Linked DNA regions of Homo sapiens: all the other regions are reported to be linked to region 1. The links are microRNA targets in miRTarBase. Many come from high-throughput screens and were not tested one by one. Region 1 holds a microRNA gene; each other region holds the end of a gene's coding sequence. Distances are between the middles of the regions.
What was found. The annotated mature microRNA hsa-miR-646 reads AAGCAGCUGCCUCUGAGGC and lies in region 1 at 2,644-2,662, opposite strand. An mRNA with a match to its seed (bases 2 to 7 or 8) in the 3' UTR can be bound and repressed. Matches are read on the target gene's strand: a 7mer-m8 pairs with bases 2 to 8, a 7mer-A1 pairs with bases 2 to 7 and ends in A, and an 8mer does both.

Region 1 (4,152 bases):
CAGAACCAGAGACACAGCTAGCTGGAAATACCCAGACAGACGCTCCCGGGTCTGCCCCTACGTTAGTCAGATGCATAACTCACGCATAACTTATCCACAGGTCATAAAACTTGCGGGGGGAGGGGGTGTCGGCCTCCATCTTTGAATTTCATGCATAAAATTTGCATGCATAATAACCTCTGCCAGATGTTCACAGGTGACAGACTTACAACTCTCCTCTCTTTCTGCAGAGCCCACCAGGTCACATCCTCAGGTTACTGGTAAGAAAATCGTCCAACTGCCAGGGCAGACATTCTATTCTCCTCTATAATTTTCACTGCTGAGCAATTAAAAATGAGCCACAGGCCTGCCAGAGAGCTGCTCTGAGAGACTTCCCAGGTCTGAGTCCTCATCTTTCTAGCTGCCGTGCATCAATGGAGACAGATGGCCCCGGGGCCGGGAGGTTCCGTTTTGTGGAGAAAGGTCAGCATGTGCCGCTTTGATTCCCTGTCCCTGACACTTGAGAAAGGAAAATGTTTATGAAGGCAAAGCCATTCCCAGAAAAATCCAACAGATCTCTGCAGTGTAGGCTCCACTTATTCATGCTCTCCGTGTTCTCTTTTTTTTTTTTTTTTTTTTTTTTAAGATGGAATTTCACTGTTGCTGCCCAGGGTGGAGTGCAATGGCGCCATCTCGGCTCACTGCAACCTCTGACTCCCGGGTTGAAGAAATTCTCCCGCCTCAGCCTCCCAAGTAGCTGGAATTACAGGCATGCACCACCACACCTGGCTAATTTTGTATTTTTAGTAGAGACGGGCTTCTCCATGTTGGTCAGGCTGGTCTCAAACTCCTGACCTCAGGTGATCTGCCCACCTCGGCCTCCCAAAGTGCTGGGATTACAGGCGTGAGCCACTGCACCCGGCCATGTGGTCTTTCATGTTAGAGAACCAACCCAGAGATTGAAAAGAGCCATCACCATGTCCCTTGAGGTAAACTGCCTTGAGATCTCAGAATGGGGGAAACATTACAGAAGAAACCCTCTCTTGATCAAAGAGGGGTGAAAGCTGCATGTCGTAAGCATGAGTCTAATGCTGGGAGCTGAGGGCTTTGACACACGGTTGCCCCCTTCTGATTCATATGGAGCCCCCAGGACTCAGGTCAAGAAGCTGGGTACAGGTCCAGCACCCCCACTTCCTCAATCTGGAACCGTGTCCAATTTCTTCTTGCATCTCAACTTCCCCATCTTAAACTGGGAATAATACGTATTCCAGGATAGTTTGAAAAATTAAATGAGAAATGAAAAAGTATAAGCTGATGACCACTGTTGTCCTGTATCGTCTCAGCTGGCAGGCACAGCAATGTGTATTACCCTTTCACACATTTGACTCTTGAACACCGTGGGGGATTAGGGGACCAACTGCTCCACCGCCCCCTGCACAAGTGAAAATCCACAAGTAACTGTTGACTCCCCAAAAGTTTAACTACTAATAGCCTACTCTTGGCTGGAAGTCATACTAATAACCAACAGTTGATTAAAACATTTTGTATGTTATATGTATCCTGTGTTCTTGCAATAAAGCTAGAAAAGAGAAAATGTTAAGAAAATAAGAGAAAATGGATTTTCTCAATTCATATTCTCTATTCATTTTCTCTATTCATATAGATTTTCTCTATTCATATAGATTTTCTCTGTTCATATTCCACTATTCATTAAGTGGAAGTGGACTGTCATAGGGTCTTCATCCTCATGGTCTTTGCATTGAGTAGACTGAGGAGGAAGTGGAGGTGGTCTTGCTGTCTCTGGGGTGGCGGAGGTAGAAGACCACCAGCATGTAGGGGGACCCATGCAGATCAAGCCCCCTGTTGTTCAAGGCTCAACTGTAATTGCTTTTTGATCCATCTGATGAAAAAGGCTCAGTTTCAGAATAATGTATCTTTGACACCTCACTTTACTCATTTATCTTTTCAGTAAAGAGCACAGTCCTTGGACTCAGATCCTTTGATAATTAATATTTCATAAAGATGCATTCCCTTTTTATTGTATTAATTATTCCTTTATCTCCTATTAATACAAATGACACTGGCTTTCCATCTGTGTAACTGGTTCCTTTTGAAATAACTATTTCAGCTTAACAAGTCAACTAAGGTGACAAAAACTAGATCATAATAGAGACAATACTTAGACGTAGCAAAATTGCAGGGAAGAAATGCAGTGCCAGTGGATGTGGCCAAACCCTCAGAGAGGAAAGAGGCTGAGGCTGGACAAAGGCTGATGTTGGCGACACGTGTGGGGCAGCATCAGACGTGTGAGACTGCGTGTTTCTCGTGTGTGTGTGTGTGTGTGTAGAGAAAGAGGAGGAGAGGACCCACACCAGAACCAGATGCTGTATGGGGTGGAAGGGGTGGACAGGCCCCGCATCCAGGCAGCCTTCTCCCTTCCCCTCCACCTGCATCAGCTGAGCATGTGAAGTCCCCCTGGCAGGCCCCCGTGCAGGGACTCAGGATGCAAATTGGGCCCGAGGTGGAGGTGGAGGGGTAGGTAAGATCACCTCCTGCTTTGGCTGTTTTCTTCTTCCCGCTGGCAGCAGGGCAGGACCCTGGGCTGCTGTTCAGCTACATTCTGACCTGCATGCATTGGGGTAAAGATAGGCCACTGAGCCTGAGGCCTCAGAGGCAGCTGCTTCCTCTCCTGGGATCACAGGTGAAAAGCAGGTGTGCTGACTCCACTGGCAGACTCCTGATCTCCAGGCTTCTGAACTGTCCTGGCTGTGGTAGTCAGTGCTGTCCTGGCAGGTTTGCTACACAGTGCTCGAGAAAACCCGGAGCCAGCCAGAGCCCCTCCTCAGCACTTTCAACAATGACCTGTAAGCATCTGTTTCCCGGTCCTGAATCCCTTCCTGCTTGACCCAGCAGAGGGGCTCTGTGTCATGAGTGAACTCTGACAGTCGCCCTACCCCTCTACCTGGTGCGTGGAAGGCAGAAGGAAGGACAGAATTGTCATGACAATGTCATCTCCACCGGATCCTGGGTGATTTGCTCAGGGCTTAGGAGCGTGTGATGACTTACACCTGACCCATCCCTTTACCGCCTATAGGAGATCCCTATCCTGCGTCTTTTCACCTTCTTGGCAGTGTGCACCAGGCAAACCCTGGCCGATTAAAGCCCCCAGGAGTCCTGCCCTCACCTGCACACCTGTCCAACTAGAAAAGGCCAAGTGCACATCTCCCTCCATCCCTGAGGGTGGAAGTTGAAGATGCCATGACAAACATTGGGTCTTCTTTTTAAATGAATTTCCTAGCCTTTACCAATCCTCCCCGCCCCCCACAACAAATTTTAAAACCCCTTTTATTTATTTTGAGAAGAGAGTCTCACTCTGTCGCCCAGGCTGGAGTGCAATGGTGTGATCTCAGCTCACTGCAACCTCCGCCTCGCAGGTTCATGTGATTCTCCTGCTTTAGCCTCCTGAGTATCTGGGACTACAGGTGCCCGCCACCATGCCCGGCTAATTTTTGTATTTTTAGTAAAGACAGGGTTTTGCCATGCTGCCCAGGCTGATCTCCAACTCCTGGCCTCAAGTTATCTACCCTCCTCAGCCTCCCAAAGTGCTGGAATTACAGGCGTGAGCGATCACACCTGGCAAAACCTCTTTTATAAGCTAAAGTGTGAAATCATATTTCACAAAGAAAATACACAGGTAGGCATAGTTTCCATAAAGAAAGAGTGAGGGAGGAAGAGAGAAAGAACTATGACCAGATTGCAAAGGGCTAACAGAAACTTGATTTTTGAGACGGAGTCTCACTGTGTCGCCAGGCTGGAGTGCAGTGGTGCAGTCTCTGTTCACTGCAACCTCAGCTTTCTGGGTTCAAGCAATTCTCCTGCCTCAGCCTCTCAAGTAGCTGGGACTACAGGCGCTCACCACCATGCCAGCTAGTCTTTGTATTTTTAGTAGAGACGGGGTTTCACCATGTTGGCCAAGATGGTCTCAATCTCTTGACCTCGTGATCTGCCCACCTCGGCCTCCCAAAGTGCTGGGATTACAGGTGTGAGCCACCACGCTCGGCCGGGAACTTAATTTTTTTAGCACTATCAGAATAACCCTGGCTCCCTGCTCCCTCTGGTTTGCTTTGATTAACATTTCCAGGACAAGTCTATGGAAATAACCAACCCCAGGCC
Region 2 (4,152 bases), 44 Mb from region 1:
CAAGTAAAATACCGTAATTTTAGCTCACATTCTTCATAAGGTCTTGGCTGGATATATTTTCAAGGAAAAACAAATGCTTGTTAAATACTCAAACAGAAGATACTATAAGGCTTAAAGTTTAAAATGGAGTTTTGAGTTTCTTGCAACTGAGGTAGGAGACCAGAAGAACTTGTTTTCTGGTCACCACCCTGCTGACCAGAACAGGATCTGGTCCAGGCAGTAAAAAGTGAAGAAACCAGCAGGGACAAGGAGATGTCAAGAAAAGCGATCCTCAGCTGTCTTCATTGTTTATTAGCATAAGCCACTCCCATAGTGCCATGACAGTTACAAATGCCATGGCAACAACCTGGAAATTACCACCCCTTTCCATGGCAATGACCCAGAAGTTACCACTCCTTTCCTAGAAAGTTCTAAATAATCTGCCCCTCAATTTGTATTGAGCCTCCCCTTAATTTGCATGTGACCGAAAGTGAGTTTAACTGGGTATAAATGCAGTTGCCAAGAGCCAATACTTTGCCAACTCTGGGCACACCGTGTATGAATTAGCCCTGCTCTGCAAGGGGCAACACTATTTACCAAAAGACTGCTGTTTACCACCATGAGCTCACCCTTGAATTCTTTCCTGGATGAAGCCAAGAATCCTCCTGGGCTAAGCCCCAAGTTTGAGGCTTGCCTGCCCTGCATCACAACCATTTCCAGAATTAACATTATCCTCTATTTATCAATATACTACTTTTGAAAAACACCATTTGAGTCAATGATCTATGATGCCCTACTTCATGAAAGTAGAAACCTGCTTTGTTAGTTCTTAATCTTGGGTGACAAGGGAATCACCCTGGGGGGGGAGGGGGGTTTATAAAAATATTGATGACTACGTTTCATCCCTGGAGACTAATTGATCTGGGGTGTAGATTGAGCATGGGTATTTGAAAATGGCTCCCAGATGATTCTAATATGCAGCCAAAGTTAAGAACCACTATATTAAATAACATCTACTCCCTTCAATCATTCCTCAAAACTCACACTCCCAAAAGATGGATGAGATAGGGAAGGTCAAAAGATCTTGGTTTGACCAAATCTTCTTTAAAGCATTGCTGTCTCCTTTTTCCTTTCCCCTGCTCCCTATTGAAGCCTTATAGAGTTTGATTGCACAGGAAAGATTTGGGAAAATTAGCAAATATAATATATTGAAGTTAATGGGACTGGTGGAGAAGTGATTTATACACAGGGGAAGGGGGAGAGCCAGGATGAACTCAGTGCTGTTAAGACTGCAGAGACATTCTTAGACATTCATAGTTTTTAACATAACTGTGTAGATATATCCAGAGGTAGACAGACTATCTCTATATAAAATTCACATCATGAAAGACAAGGAGAAGCTGAGGAATCAACAGGAGGCTAAAGAAACATGACAACTACATGCAACACAATCCTGGATTGGATTCTTGAGCCATTATTGGAATATAAACAAAACTTGGATTGGATGATAATATGGGATTATTTCCTGTTTTGTTTGAGACAGGGTCTCACTCTGTTGCCCGGACTGCAGCATAGTGGCATGATCACACATAATTGTAACCTCAACCTCCTGGGCTCAAGCAATCCTCCTGCCTCAGCCTCCCCAGTAGTTGGGACTTCAGGCACACACCACCACATCCAGCTTATTTTTTTTCTTTTTGTAGACACAAGGTCTCACTGTTGCCCCAGTTGGTCTTACATGACCCTCCCACCTCAGCCTCCCAAACCACTGGGATTACAGGCATGAGCCGTCGCACCCAGCCACATTCCCTGGTTTTGATGGTCATTATTGTGGTTATGTGGGAGGGTGGTCTTGTACTTAAGAACACACATTGAAGTATCATGGAATAATGGGGTATCAGGTCAATGTAATCACAACCTCAAATAGCCCAGAAGCCTAGAAACATTAATGATTAATTTGAAGTGTTATGAAAGTTCTGTGTACCATTTCTGCAACTTTTATGTAAATTAGAAATTGTATCAAACTATCACTCTTCTGCTTGAAATCTAATAGAACATATGCCCAGACTTGTATGTAAATTTTCATAGCCACTTTCTTAATAGCCTCAAATTGGAGAACGCAAATGCCCATTCATTGGTGGAACTGCTGATATAGGCAACAGCAGATACATTTCCAAAGCATTCCAGACAGGGCGAAACTGTTGGGACAGAAAGCAGATCAGTAGTTGACTACGGCCAAGGGTAGAGGGGAATAGATTGACTGCAAAGGCGTACAAGGGAAATTTTGGGGGTGATGGAATGCTCTGTACTGATTATTACATGACTATATACAATTGCCCAAACTCATCAAATGGAACACTAACATGGGTGAACTTTATTGTACGTAAATTCTAACCCACTTTAAAAAAATTCTCTAAAATAGTCCCCCATTTCACTCAGAGTATAAGCAAATCCTGAAGAAGACCTACACGACCCCTCTTACTATTCACCCCCCTCATTCTCACCCCAGGTGAGCCACCCTGGCTTTTCTGCTCCAATACAGCCACTCAAAGCATGGCCAGGACTGGGCATGGGATCAGTCTGTGAATTATTTTCAGTTCTTAGACAAGTACGGTATCCGAGAGTAAGCAGTTAGAAAATTTATCAGCAATTGACATCACTGTAATATACAAGAACATGGCCCATTTTCTAGTAATTCACTGTTAATATATTTTACAAAAGTACAGGAGCTTGACTACTGGGATTAAAAAAGTTATTCAGAAGAGTCAGACTAACTGTGACAAAGTTATAGGAAACATTTTTTTCCTCTTTATGTATGCATAAGAGTGATGTGATACTGTCTACGTAAGTCTAAAAGTCTTTCCATAAGTAGACAATAAAAATTCCAAGTGATAAAGGTTTTGTTCAAGGAATACTAAAACAGGAACACCAGAAAAATAAGTACTGTTTTCTTTTTTGTTGTTGTTACTATTAATATGTACCATACTTGTAAAAACAAATTGTCCACTTCTGGAGATACCCATGGTTTACTCAGCAGAGGACTGAATCAATAGCCTTAAACATAAATCAAAAGCTAAAGAAAATGGGCTTTGGAAATATTTGAACATTGGTGTTTAAGAATTACAAAGAAGTAGCAAGCTTAGCACTGGCAACTCTTTATTAATCAGTCTATTTGTCTTAAGGGGGAAAAGAGACTATAGATCAAAAAATTTTTACCCTGGAGGTCTTTCAATAAAGAGATTGCATATTAACCTTAGAACAGTCCTGCCTCATGAAGGAAACAGCATTAAATGCAAAGTGTGAAGATAGCATTCCCTTTCTGTTTTCTCAGTAAACAGTAAGAACAGCCTTTATTTAATACTGAATGAAGAAAACTTGTGGAATCCCTACTAGCAGCAAAATAATATATTCATTTCTTAAAAGGATACAAAGATCAAATTTAGATCCTGCCTGGGTCTCATTTTCTTCTAATACCCAGAACAATCATTGTTACCATTAATACAACAGTCATCTACTAGCTTCTGTGATCTAATTTTACTTAACTTTTATTGAATGGTTCAATGATGTTGTATAATTAGCTCCTCCAAAGTAACACTAGAAAAGCATCCTATTACACAAGTTTATAAACCTTAAGTGTGTTCTAGACTAGAAGTCATTTGATGATAGGGAGATGGGTCAATCAAGAAAGCATTATATACACAGAATACAAATAAAAGTTTATTGTACAAAATTAAGGCCTTCGTATTTCATAGTTCACCAAGGCTAAAGAAACACTGGATAATTTAAGTCCTTCACAAAAATTTCACTTTTACTCCTCCTCATCTCTAACTATTAAAATGACCCAGCCAAATGTTATCAAAACAAACACTGTAAATAACACCAAGTCTTTTAAAGACGACTATCCCAAATGTTATTTCTTGGCATAGGTGATCTTCATAGCATGGGACGGTGTGATCTTAAATCCCTGTAAAGCATCCCTGGCAGCTCCAGCCTGCCCATCATTTTCAAATTCAACAAAAGCAATGTCATGCCTCCCTGGTACCAGACGTACTTCCTTGAAGCCAGGGAACCTATAAAGAAGAAAAACAATTCATGTATACAGCAAGTACATAAATGTTTGCTTTGTGTTAAAATTTGTTAAGCAACTTCCTAATACTAGTCCAAGAAAAATAA
Region 3 (4,000 bases), not on the chromosome of region 1:
GACTGTCATCTAAAACCTCAAAGCCTCAAAAGCTGTTTACATCAGTGGGGTTGCACCTGTACTCTGAGTTAGTTTTATCACAAAAATGGGTCATTTGCAGCTGCCTTTTAAAGGTGAAAACAGATGCAAAATATATTAAAAAAATCAAACAGACTTTCAAAAACCACACACAGTGCCAAGTAGTCAGTGGATTTGTCGGCGCCCTGCCTGAGAACAGCACTTTGATAAAAGGCCCAGCTGCAAGGGTGCAGAATAACAGAGTTGGGAGCACTGCTGCCCTTTCTTTGTTCTGCCTTTCAGGGCAGCTGTCCTCAAATATGGGGTGGGCAGAAGTGGTGTGCTTACTGCCAGCACTGCCTGCTACAAGGAAAAGAACTGTATGGCCTACTAATTTGGGGGAGTGCTGGATTAAACAGCATTAAGATGCTTCTCAGACTGTTCAATATACTTGTGTGCACTGCCCGTCTCCCAGGGATGGACACAGTTGTGATCCCCAAATGCTCTACAGACTTTTAGGGGAGGGACCATGCTCTAGGACCCATGCTTTAAGAAGGCAAAAATAAACCAAGCACTGTGGCTCATGCCTGTAATCCCACGGCTTTGGGAAGTGGGAGGATCGCTTGAGCCTAGAGGTTTGAGGCTGCAGTGAGCTATGATTGAACCACTGCATGCCAGGCTGGGTGACAGAACAAGACCCTGTCTCTAAAAAAACAAAAAGGAAGCAAAATAGAAAATGCTTCTTTGCAAACATTATGTCAATTAGTGATACATCTAAAATACATCTTGAGAGGCTGGGGTAGGAGAATTGCTTGAGGCCAATGGTTTGAGACCAGCCTGGGAAACGCAGTGAGACCCCATCTCTAAAACACAAAATAAAATAAAAAATAAATAATTAAAATGCAGTTTAACTGTAGCAGCTACACCCTTCAGCAGCATCTGTGAGAGAAGTGTTATTTCTGACCAAGCAGAGCTGTGTTTTAAGATGAAGGCTCCCCGACCTGTGAAAAACAGCCCTAGCTCAAGGTTAACTTACAGTATCAACAGTACATTACTTCAGCGATGCTTCTGTCTTCCTACCCACTGGGGACAATTGTCTCCATAGCTTGTATCTTACATTCTCAAATAACATCTAGTTTCTGGTTCCCCTGAGACCAGGTGCATCCTCCACCCACCTCACCCCACTGAACCAAGGATCTGCTGTACACCCTTCCTCATTAGAAACTTCATCTCCACCCTCTTTCCCACTCCCCCAACAAAACAATCAAAGCACATGCCCAAATTTATTTTTATTTTGCACACATAGGAAACAGGATCCTATCAAAAGAGAACAAAAAAGAGAAACGAGCCAATTGTTGCAGAGGAAAAGCATGCACAGATCTGCTTCAAGTTTACTCTGAACCACGGACGCTCCGGGAATTCTACACACCAGGAGCTGTCTCACTCCAGGAAGTGGGCACAACCCACCATCCACACAATGGAAACAAGAATGGCCAGGAAATGTCACCGAAGTGGGACTTCCATATGCAGGATCAGCGTTCACAGTAGCACAATTCTAACCAAGTTCAAGGGAAAACAAACTCTGTCTCACACAAACATGGGAATACAAAATTGTTGAGCCCTAGCCATCACTGTCTCTTAACATAATTTGCTATCAAAAAGACAAACGAAATTTAGTCACGGACTTTTGGGTGCCTATTCAGCTGCACCCGATTCCAGGGGCAGCTTAGTGTGCTTTTTCATTACAAAAAATAAAGACATTAAAAATGCAAAACAAATGACCTGGAGGAAGAGGAGTGTTTGGACCCACGCAGTTGTCTTGGTTGTAAACAGTGAACATTGTGCTTTGTTGTCTCATTTAGATGGAGGCCTGCAGCATGGGAGGTACCACGCTGGCAGTCAGCAGTCACACCAGGGTGGTCAGAGACACTGGTGGCAGCATCTGTGCTTGCAACTGCATTCCCAGGGTGTCTGTTTTGTTCCCAAGTGTCTCCCACAAAATTCCCCAGGAGGTTCTCCGATTAAATGTCCTCAGAGTGAAAAGCATGGACACCAAATCACTCCGTATCCACTTCCATGAGATGTCTTGATGCTCCAGTTCAATGAGTAACAATTTCTCAAGAGGCTCTGATTAGTTCATTAAAAAATAAGCACCCCCACCTCATTCCCCGTGATACAGCACATCTAGTAATCTAGGCGCCTCAGCTAAGCTGCATAGCTCTTAGCACACAGGACAGGTCAGCGTTCACACATCAACACTATAACTATGCGGCGGAACTAGCTCCCCGCTAGCCGTCAACTACTCAGGAGACTACCTGTGAGATCCTGGGGTGAGCTGTGATTCCTATCCAGGAATGTGCATTTCCGACCACTTCTTCTTTATTCTAATTATGACAACATGGTCAGTGCAGTTGAGTCAGTACTTCTCCTGTCTTTTCCCAGCAAGCTCCTCCTCCTTGGAGCCCAGCACACACCCGCTTAGACCCAACACAACCTCAGAGAGAGACGCCTCAGCTGGTCTCTCTCCCTGGAAGAGTCCATGTGACTTCCCAGCCAGATGTGCCCCGTTTTGAAAGCACCCTTCAGAACCCACCACTGGAGCTGCCTGAGGGAAGGAGACCCCCGGGCCTGAGAATGCCCTGGAGAGGCAGTGATGTCCAGGGAAGACACACACCCAGTCTGATTTCAAAGGGCAGGACGCTCTACATGCACTTCCATAAACACACCAAAAAAATGGGTAACAGTCCTTTCTCCAAATCAGACCAAGAGCTCACAAAATGCAATGTCTCAGTTTGGGGCAGGAAGTGATTTCCCATGAATTTAAATAAATTTGCTTAGTGGATGTCAGATCACTGTCAGGCCTCCAAGGCAAGCCTGATTCTAGGCCCCATCCTGCGGTGAGAGCTGCACGTGCTACCCTTCCCTGGCGGTGCAGGAGAAGTCTATCTTTAGGATATGAACAGAGACAGAAACATGACAAGGGGCTTGCTCTCTCCTGAATGTCTCTCCAACAGCTTCTGGAAGAGGAAGGCTGACGAGAGGACAGGCTGGAGCAGATGACCTGCTGGGCTCAGCTCAGTCGGCTGCTGCTTCATCGGCTGAGCCGCCCGGCATGGGGCTTCCTATTAATACCCGGGCAGAAGGATGCTTGCCTGGGATGCTCGGCCTGGCCCCTCTACATGCCACCTGCACCTCCAGCACTGCCTTCTTCCTCTCAGTCTCTCTCCTGTAGATCTGGTCACGCCACCGTAAGGACGTCAGCCCTCGGGGACTGTCACCACACTACCATGTGAGAGCACAGACTGCGTCAGAAACAGAAGCAACAGAGGAGACAAAGTGTGAGTTCATATATTGTACTCCATGGAAAGCCTGAAAGAGAGCTGTGCTTGCTGTGAGGATATCAGAGGAACTGCCCTTAGCAGCCCACGAGACCGTTCCTGGAAGTGAACATCAACGAAGACAGAAAGGCCAGGGAAAGGCCCTCTCCTGTCTCTCCTCTTGCACGTGGGCACCCCACTACTTGGCCTTCACTACCTGTTCGTACGGGGGCGGAGGCGTGTTGCAGTAGGCTGGAGGGGGCGGGCAGGCCACACTCCCCTGGGGTGAGTTGGGTGGGACCTGGAAAGCCATTGCCATGGAATTCCCGACAGGGTTCATCCCCGGTCCTCCTGGGTCGGTGTAATAGGGCGGCCCCGGCTGCTGGGCTCCTGAAAGACAGACAAACATAGGTGAGCACAGAAGGGAAAGCCCCATCACACCGCAAGTATGTGCAGGCTGCAGGGCCAGCAGACCACGCCCCGTCATTCACTCAGCGACAGTGTATGAAGGACCCAACATGCCCGGTGAGGGGGCACCTGGGCTGTGGTGACAAGCAACACAATAGGCAGGTCCCTGCCCTCTCGGGGCTTTGATTCTACTGGACTACATTCCACGTTACCAGTTCACACATTAGGGTGGAGGAAACTGGGCCACAGTAAGGTGAGGCTGTCTGCGGTGAACTATC
Region 4 (4,152 bases), not on the chromosome of region 1:
TGTGTGCCTGTAATCCCAGCTACTAGGGAGGCTGAGGCAGGAGAATCATTTGAACCTGGGAGGTGGAGGTTGCAGTGAGCTGAGATGACGCCAGTGCACTCCAGCCTGGGCAACAGAGCGAGACTGTCTTAAAAAAAAAGAAAGTGGAGTTGATCTATATATTTTTGACCATTTTTCAAATGTTACCAAGTGCCTTGTGAATTACAAAACTGACTTTTGTAATTTGGAAATAGAGAAAATAGGGGTTTTTGCAAAAAATGTTTCAGTTGCTAGCCTCCCTGTTTGTCCTTATAACTAGAAAATTGTTTGTCTATAAAAAAATTTTTGTCTATAAAAGTACCCTTCTGAAAAAAGCAGCCCAAATAAAATTCTGGGAAAAGAATTACTTAGTTGCACCGGACCTACTTCCTGACTTCCATTTTGTTTTGTTGTATTTTTGTCTTGTTTTAGGTTAGCTCCATTCAGAACCAAATGCAGTCCAAGGGAGGTTATGGAGGTGGAATGCCTGCCAATGTCCAGATGCAGCTCGTGGATACGAAGGCGGGATAGCCCTGGTCCTTTCTCCAGTGAGTACTCAGAGCTGGGGTCTGGACCTGACGGCCAGACATGGCCAGGCCAATAATAGTAAATATATGTATATATATATAATTTTTTAATGGTGAACTTATTGGGAAAGGCAAAATTACTCAGCTAAGTGTAGTTTCTGCACTTGGAATGTAAGTTTTAGGTTCTTTTCCTTATTAAGAACTTTAAATACTTTAAAACATCTGGTTGGGGAGGATTCTGATGACAAGATGCTTCTTATGTGTCCTTTAAACAAGAGTGAAATCATTATTTTGAGTATTGAGGCCGAGCATGGTGGCTCACACCTGTAATCCCAGCACTTTGGGAGGCCTAGGTGGGCTGATCACCTGAGGCCAGGAATTGGAGACTAGCCTGGCCAACATGGTGAAACCCCATCTCTACTAAAAATACAAAAATTAGCTGGGCATGGTGGCGCATGCCTGTAATCGCAGCTACTCAGGAGGCTGAGGCACGAGAATTGCTTGAACCTGGGAGGCAGGGGTTGCAGTCAGCTGAGAATGCGCCACTGCGCTCCAGCCTGGGTGACAGAGCAAGACCCTGTCTCAAAAAAGTACTGATACTAAAGATAATCTCTTGGGTAGTAATTTTACAGTTAAGACTTCATTGTTTATAAACTTTTCAAATTAATTAAAAAGACTACTTTGAAAAAGGATAAACCCTGAAAATGTAGAAATAATTTCAAGTTTTTTTTTGTTTTATAGGGTTATTGTGAATTTCTATATTTTCTCTGTCCACTATTCTGTAATTTTTTTTTGTCCTGTGATTGCTTTTATTTTGAATTACAAAAAAGAAGTGTGATGGCACCTTGTCCACCCTGTCGTGATTATTCCAGTGAGATGTTACTGTTCTGCTCTGAAGAAGATACTGTCAGACGAATCCTGCATTTCCTTCAGCTGGCATGCATGCCTTTGGACTCATGGACAGAGTTCTTTGGATTGTCACTGAATTTTCAATGTTTAATCAGTATGGATCTGATCTTCGCATGATCTTTTTTGTGAATGCTAACACCATTTTGCAGTTTTTTTTTTCTATTTTAAACATTTTTCTTTTCACTGCCGACCCCCTGCCTTACGATTTTATTGGAAAGCAAGGACCTGCTATTATTTGTTAATTTGCCATCATTTATGTATATTTTGGAAGGTATGAGACCCACAAGCACAATGATCATTTTTATTTGTTTGTTTGTTTGAAACTTCAGCAGAATAGATATCTGCATGCTTTATGAAGTTGTTGCTTCGGTAAGAGCCCATGGGATGCCAGAAATTAACATTTCTTTGCTGCCATGGGCTGATGATGCTGCTATTAGATAAAGTTTAGCTGTGGCACCAAGTCACATCATTTTCATAGAAAAAGATTACTTGTAGCTTATTTTAGAAGTATGACCTTTTGGTCTGTTTGATTGATTGATTAGAATTGCAATAAAAGAAAAGCTTGCATTCATAAGGCATTCATTCTGTTGTAAATGTTCAATATATTTATTTTGAGAGCAAGGACCTGTGGTTGTAAACAGGTGTGGTTACAGGTGTGGTTATGTATCTGAGTGTTGCGGTCATACTCTCCTCCAGTCCAATCCTGAGCATCTTCATCTTATTAATTAGCTGTTCGTTTCTTTGTGCACTCATTCTTTTATTTTTACTTCTTTTTAATGTTATGGTATCCAGTTGTTTCCAGTAGCAGTTTCTTGAACTTCTGGCCTGTACTACTAACTGCAGACCTCCAGAGTCACTGGCCTTTCTGTGCTCTACATATTATTTTAGGGGCCACATCAGTTGCCAAGAGCAACATACATACCGACCTGGCTGAATTATTGCCAGTGAAAACAACCTGTACGAAGCCTTTGCTCAGGTTCTAAAATATGTTTGTCCTTGCACGAATTTTGTATATTTCAAATATTTCTGTAAAGGTTTCTTCTTTTCTGTTAGAGTGTGGTGTTAAGCCAGAGTCAGTGGTTTGTGTTCTCATTAAAATGTTTGTTTAAATCCTATGTCCAATTCAAGCCTATCTAACTACATTTGGTAGGATTAACATTTCATATAACAAATGGGGCTTAATTAAAAACTTTAACTTGGAATAAAGGAACAGGGATCACTTTATCTTCTGCCTTCATTTACCTTAGTCCAAGATTCTTGCAAAACAGGCAACTGAACAAACATTAGGTTTATGTAGGTAAAATGTGAAAGCATTTCTCCTCCACTTTTTAAAATTTAATTTACCCAGTACAGCGGGGCACCAGATTACTTGATCTTTGTATTTTGCAGTTTTGAGCCTTTGTGTCAATCCCAAGCACAGAGAGGATCTGCCAAGGAAAAACATTTGCATCTTCGGAGTAGACATTTTGCAGTTTGTTTAATAACAACTTCTAAAGTAAGTTGAATTCATCCATTGTCACTGATTCACCAAGTGGATGTTGCATTGTGGAATTTGCCTGAGTACTGTTGTCATTCTGCTCAGCCAGGCACGGTCAGTTTCTTGGCCAGGGACATTGCTATGTGCTGTGTGCAAGCTCTTTAGAAGAGAGATTGGATTTTCTTGGCATTATCAGCACTCATGCTATTTAGTCTACTTCTATTTTGACTGACTCTTTAAATTAGTACAATTTTTCTACTTGTCATATAACTCCTGGAACAATAGTACGGGAAGCCGTGATCCTTTTCCCTGACTCATGATTTTAGTCTTTTTCCAAATCGCTGTTTTTTTTTTTTTTTTTTTTTTTTTTGCTGCTCCAACGACCAGCATGTGTTGGAGCAGATCTCCATGGTAAGCCAAAAGTGGACTTGTCAGCCTATAACTACTCTGCAGCTGCCACTAACTCTACAGGCACAGTAACTACACTTTATACAGGAGCACATGCCAAAGTGCCTGGGAGGTGCCAATAAAATCAAGAAATAAGAAAACTACAAAAAAAGATACGGTATTAACCTTGGACATAATTTTTTTTAGGGAGGCAGCTTTCCCACTTTTATAAAGGGGGTTGTAAATCTCAAGAGGTCATTTGTTCCCCATAGCAGCATATCTCATTTTTAAATTGAAGCGAATTAAATAGGATTTTACTACTCAACATTCATTATACTGTTAATCTTTGCTGAAATATATGCTAACAAATGTTAAGCAAGGGAAACTGAAGACTTAGTCATGTGGATTGTTAGCAGTGATCTGCATTCTGTAAAAGAGGTACTTTCCCATGATGTAGGCATGAAGTGGTGCCAGTAAGCGTAGAGCGGAAATGTTGACTTTAGTTAACATTGGGTTTAGCATTTCCAGTGCAGCATTATCAGTGGGCCTTTAAAAATACTTCGTAAGTACATTAGCTTTCACTTTGTTGTTAAATTATAGCAGACTCATTATAGAGAACAAGTTTGCCTTGATTTTGTTTAAAATGACTTCTGCTAAGCACCCAGAAGATAAAATTGACATATTTTTATAATATAAGCATACTTTTTTTGTACATTGTGTTCATTCTTGAATAAAATGAGTTCTGTGTTGGCTTGTAGATACTAAAAAGAAAGTATTGATTTTGATTCAATAAATGTTTTCTTTCAATCCTGGTTGGCCTTTCCTTTAAATTTT
Region 5 (4,152 bases), not on the chromosome of region 1:
CACACAGGCTCTTTAAGGCGGTGATAGTTTAATGGCAAAAACGTGATTTGAGAGTGAGTAGAAGATCTAGAACTGCCAGGTTTATTGTGGAAACCTGAGCACGTCTCTTAACCTCGTTGAACTTCAGTTTCTTTCCTCTATAAATAGGAAATTTATGTTAAATCACTTTATAACTTTATAAACTGAACCACATAAAAGTAATATTGTGGTATGGAACTTTTTAAAAGAAAAGTAAACATTTGGAAATTTCATGTCTGCCATGTAACTAATGTTGCTGCATTTCACATAGGTATTGGGAAATGAGAGAGCAGCGCACCCCCACTTTGAAAGGCAAGCTGGTTCAGAAGGCTGATCAGGAGCAGCAGGACCCTCTGGAATACCTTCAGTCTGATGAAGAGGACGACGAGAAGAGAGGGGCCCAGCGCCGGCTGCAGGAGCAGCGGGAGCGCCTGCATGGAGCCCTCGCGCTCATAGAGCTTGCCAACCTGACTGGGGCGCCACTCCGACAGTAGCTTGGACACTGACTCTTCCACTGTACAAAAGTACTGCCCAGCATACTTAAAAAGTAGATCCTTGGGCATAAGCTAAGCACCTTATTTGCTTATCATAGGCTGCTATTCTGTAGAAATTTATGAAGAATGTTATTGCCCCAGAATATGGGGTGAGAGAGAACTGCACTTTTTTAATATGGAAATGAATTCATCGTAAAGTTTAAAATATTTTGTAAATATGGACTGCACAGTACAGGGTAGAAAACTACATATTGTGGGAAGCTAGATTTTGCAAGTTTAATGCATTCATTGGAAGCAGTTCTCACAGGAAGCACTTTCTGAATAAGACACTTGTTTGAAAAACAGAATGGTACAAATAGCCAAAGAAGATTAAAACAGATTATTTATAAGATCATTTTTAACAATATATATTAGTATGTTTAACAATACTGTAAACACTGAAGCAAGCAAGAAAGTATAAAATATGTAAGATAGATAATTTTAATTGCAAAATACTGTGCCCACTAAGGCTAGAGAAATGGGAGGCTATTTTGGAAGATGTTCTAAGTAATGGACTTAGAAGAAAATAGATATTTGAGGCTCTTGGTAAGATGCACAATAGTTCAGAATTTTTGAAATTGGAGCAAAATCAGTCTTATTCTATCTGGGGCTTTACAACTCAGTATAATGTTTAAGTTTGAAAAGCACTTGTCATCCCTAGCATGTTAACTTGGGAACTTTTGCACATTTCATATTTCTCATTTGCTGAAATTGAGTGATTAATCTTGCAAAGTCTAGGTAACATAGTAATTGGTAATTTTAAAAATACATATTAAGGGCCCTGTAATGAGATTTGGCACTTGGATTTTTACTAAAGGGACACCTGCAGGGTTGTTTTGTAGTGAAATGTTTTAGATCTTTTGTTAGCAAACACTACATTTTAATTGTACTGCTTGTTTAGAATTATTAGCAAATGGAAGCCTCCATATTTATATTTTCAGTGCATAAAGCCACCTTCTTGCTTTACTTCAGAGTAACATGCCAAGCTATTTTGTGTTCACTAAATTTAGCTATCAGTTAAACACTGCAGAAAATATTAGCTACTCAAATAAGTAGGCTTCTGAAATAGTTTTAACTGCAAGTGTGTTAACTTGTGTGGTGGTTTGAAGCCATTTTTCCAAATAAAGTTATTAAACACCACTTTATGTACTGAAGCATGAACAGAAAAATCAAGAGCTGAGCAGACCACCTCCTTTATGTAGGCAAAACTTCCATCATTTTGGCTTTTGTTCTAAACAGAACTAAATGACATGCATAGCATGGTAACTTACAGATCGCTTAATTGGAGTAAAACTCAGAGTAATAGAGGGAAATATGGGCTCTTCAGTGCCTTTTTAGCTTTTTTGAGTTGAAGACGTTCCTACAGATGTAGTTTAAACATTACAAAGTAGGCTTCTTTATCCAAAAATCCCAATGTGTCATAGTACACAGATAGTTTAAAATATGTAGCCACGGGGAAGGGGAGGCATGTAAATGTCTTGAAGAGGAGAAAAAGTATGAAAGAAGATACGATAGTTACGAATAATGTGTATGATGAGGACATACTTTAAAAATGTAATTCCTCTGTACAGTAAATTACAAATCTTTAGGGATTTTTTTGTAATAAGAGAATTTATATTTGTAATGGTCTAAGAATTTTTTTGTAATGTGGTATATAGAATTTTAATTTGGAGCACTTATAAGCTGGTAAGAGAGACTATAGCATCTGAATTATCTTGGTTTATGTTTCAGCATTTCCTCTAGAATTTTTGCTCTCAAATATGTGATTTAATGAACTAAAAACAACACTCATCAGTCTTGGGAAATTTGAACTTTGATCAACTTAACTAAAGAAGGAAGGGTAGTAAGAATTTTTCAAATACAAATATTTGCCAATTCACAGATGATAACATTTAAGGCCTTCAAAAGTAAGGGTTTTTCCTTGTTTCTCCAGTCAGCTTTTGTCAACTCTAATAGTTTTTTCATAAACATTTTTTATTTGTATAATTGCAACAGTTTAAGAAATTATCACAACTATTTAGAAACATTTAAAATGTTCTTTTTGATATAAGCTATATACTTGGAAAAATACATTGGTATCTAAAATTTGAGGTGTGTTAAGACTGCTTTTTGTTTTAAAAAATGGTTTACATTCAAATTTTTGAAGTGTTTTATGCTTCATATGGCTAAGTTGTAGTTTGGCAGAGTTAACAGCATAAGAATAAACATGCTGTAATTTTAAAAGATGCTTTGAATAAAAATTTATTTTAATTTAAAATTTAAAGTACACGGTCATTCTTAAAGCCTTTATCATTTGTTTTCCTATCGAAAATATAATAACCATGATATAAAAAAATTTAAAAGATAGAAACATCACCTACAGCCTTATGTTCAGCCATCAGTATTATTTCAGTACATGTTTGCGTAGTTGTAAGTACAGTGTGGATTGCTTTTTCTTACTTTAATTATGGCTTTTAAGGTTATAGATATTTAACTTCCTCATCGGGTTCATTACTACAGTGTTAAAAATATACTGCTGTGGATAAGTATTGAACTATTGCCACCCCATTTCCAGGCCTTAAATTAGGGTAATAAGGAAAAGGGATTTCATTTCACTTACATTTAGGATGGGTTGTCTCTGGGGTCAGCTCCTCAAGAATCCATTTAAAGCCTGTGTACTTTTCTAAGAGTCTAGCAAATTGGTTTTCTTTTTTCATCAGTTATTTTTGGTAGATCTTTAGTTGTGTATTTGCAGTGGCAAGGGTCAGCCTGTCCTACCCTTGTGCAGAAGAATATCACAAGCAACTCCTTAGTGTGAGTTGCTGTTTAAACAGGGTAAGGATGGGATTTTGACAGCGAGGTAAGGTCCTGGAAGTATGTGTATACAATCAAACTAAATGCAATTATGATGAAGGTCATCATTAAAAATAACTTTAAAATATTCTTTTTGCAGTCAAAACATTTGGAGACTCACAAGAAAATTGAATGTTCTGAGGAAATTAACCAAAATGACCGATTTCCTGTTTAACTTGAATATGGATTCATTTTCTCTTTTAAAACGGACTTAACATGTCTTTTCTTTCTTGTTTTGGGTAACTTGGGCACTTCTGGTCTTTTTAATGCTAGCTAATTTTCACGAGTTCTGCTTTAGTTCTTATCAGGGCTGAAAATGTTTCCCAGTTTTCATTCTCCTGGTTGTTTAGTGCCTAAGGGTAGAAAAACAATTCTCTGGGCATCTATATAGTTAGGCCCCAACTTTTATTTAACTTGAAATCTTAAGCTTTTCTAAGAAGCTAAAAGTTCATATATATATATATATATAATATACATTATATATTAAATATATAATATATATATTTTTGAGACGGAGGCTTGCTCTGTCGCCCAGGCTGGAGTGCAGTGGCGCGATCTCGCCTCACTGCAAGCTCTGCCTCCCGGGTTCACGCCATTCTCCTGCCTCAGCCTCCTGAGTAGCTGGGACTACAGGCGCCCGCCACCACGCCCGGCTAATTTTTTTTGTATCTTTAGTAGAGACGGGGTTTCACCGTGTTAGCCAGGATGGTCTCGATCTCCTGACCTCGTGATCTGCCCGCCTCGGTCTCCCAAAGTGCTGGGATTACAT

Region 2: miRTarBase lists SNRPB2 as a target of hsa-miR-646. Seed matches in the 3' UTR shown: 7mer-A1 at 3,370-3,376.
Region 3: the mRNA of VOPP1 is a reported target of hsa-miR-646. Seed matches in the 3' UTR shown: 7mer-A1 at 3,414-3,420.
Region 4: miRTarBase lists CDC42SE2 as a target of hsa-miR-646. Seed matches in the 3' UTR shown: 7mer-A1 at 1,881-1,887.
Region 5: the mRNA of ZNF367 is a reported target of hsa-miR-646. Seed matches in the 3' UTR shown: 7mer-A1 at 611-617.

Annotation. Positions count from the first base shown.
Region 1 is chr20:60,307,044-60,311,195 of GRCh38, reverse strand. It overlaps MIR646 (microRNA 646), which reads right to left and starts at 2,722; the gene lies at 2,629-2,722. The region is part of intron 3 of MIR646HG (MIR646 host gene); the gene reads right to left.
Region 2 is chr20:16,740,743-16,744,894 of GRCh38, reverse strand. SNRPB2 (small nuclear ribonucleoprotein polypeptide B2) reads right to left here. Exons shown (of 7, transcript NM_003092.5): 7 at 2,331-4,049. The coding sequence ends at 3,890. Among named protein-coding and RNA genes, the nearest start is that of OTOR, 5.5 kb to the left of the region's middle.
Region 3 is chr7:55,469,342-55,473,341 of GRCh38, forward strand. VOPP1 (VOPP1 WW domain binding protein) reads right to left here. Exons shown (of 5, transcript NM_030796.5): 5 at 1,272-3,704. The coding sequence ends at 3,514. Among named protein-coding and RNA genes, the nearest start is that of VOPP1, 100 kb to the right of the region's middle. RefSeq lists an enhancer at 3,632-4,000.
Region 4 is chr5:131,390,543-131,394,694 of GRCh38, forward strand. It overlaps CDC42SE2 (CDC42 small effector 2), which reads left to right. Exons shown (of 5, transcript NM_001375635.1): 5 at 451-4,130. The coding sequence ends at 549. It overlaps LOC105379173 (a long non-coding RNA gene), which reads right to left. Exons shown (of 3, transcript XR_007058929.1): 3 at 4,098-4,152. Among named protein-coding and RNA genes, the nearest start is that of CDC42SE2, 130 kb to the left of the region's middle.
Region 5 is chr9:96,384,597-96,388,748 of GRCh38, reverse strand. It overlaps ZNF367 (zinc finger protein 367), which reads left to right. Exons shown (of 5, transcript NM_153695.4): 5 at 290-2,808. The coding sequence ends at 512. Among named protein-coding and RNA genes, the nearest start is that of SLC35D2-HSD17B3, 3.0 kb to the right of the region's middle. RefSeq lists an enhancer at 1-86.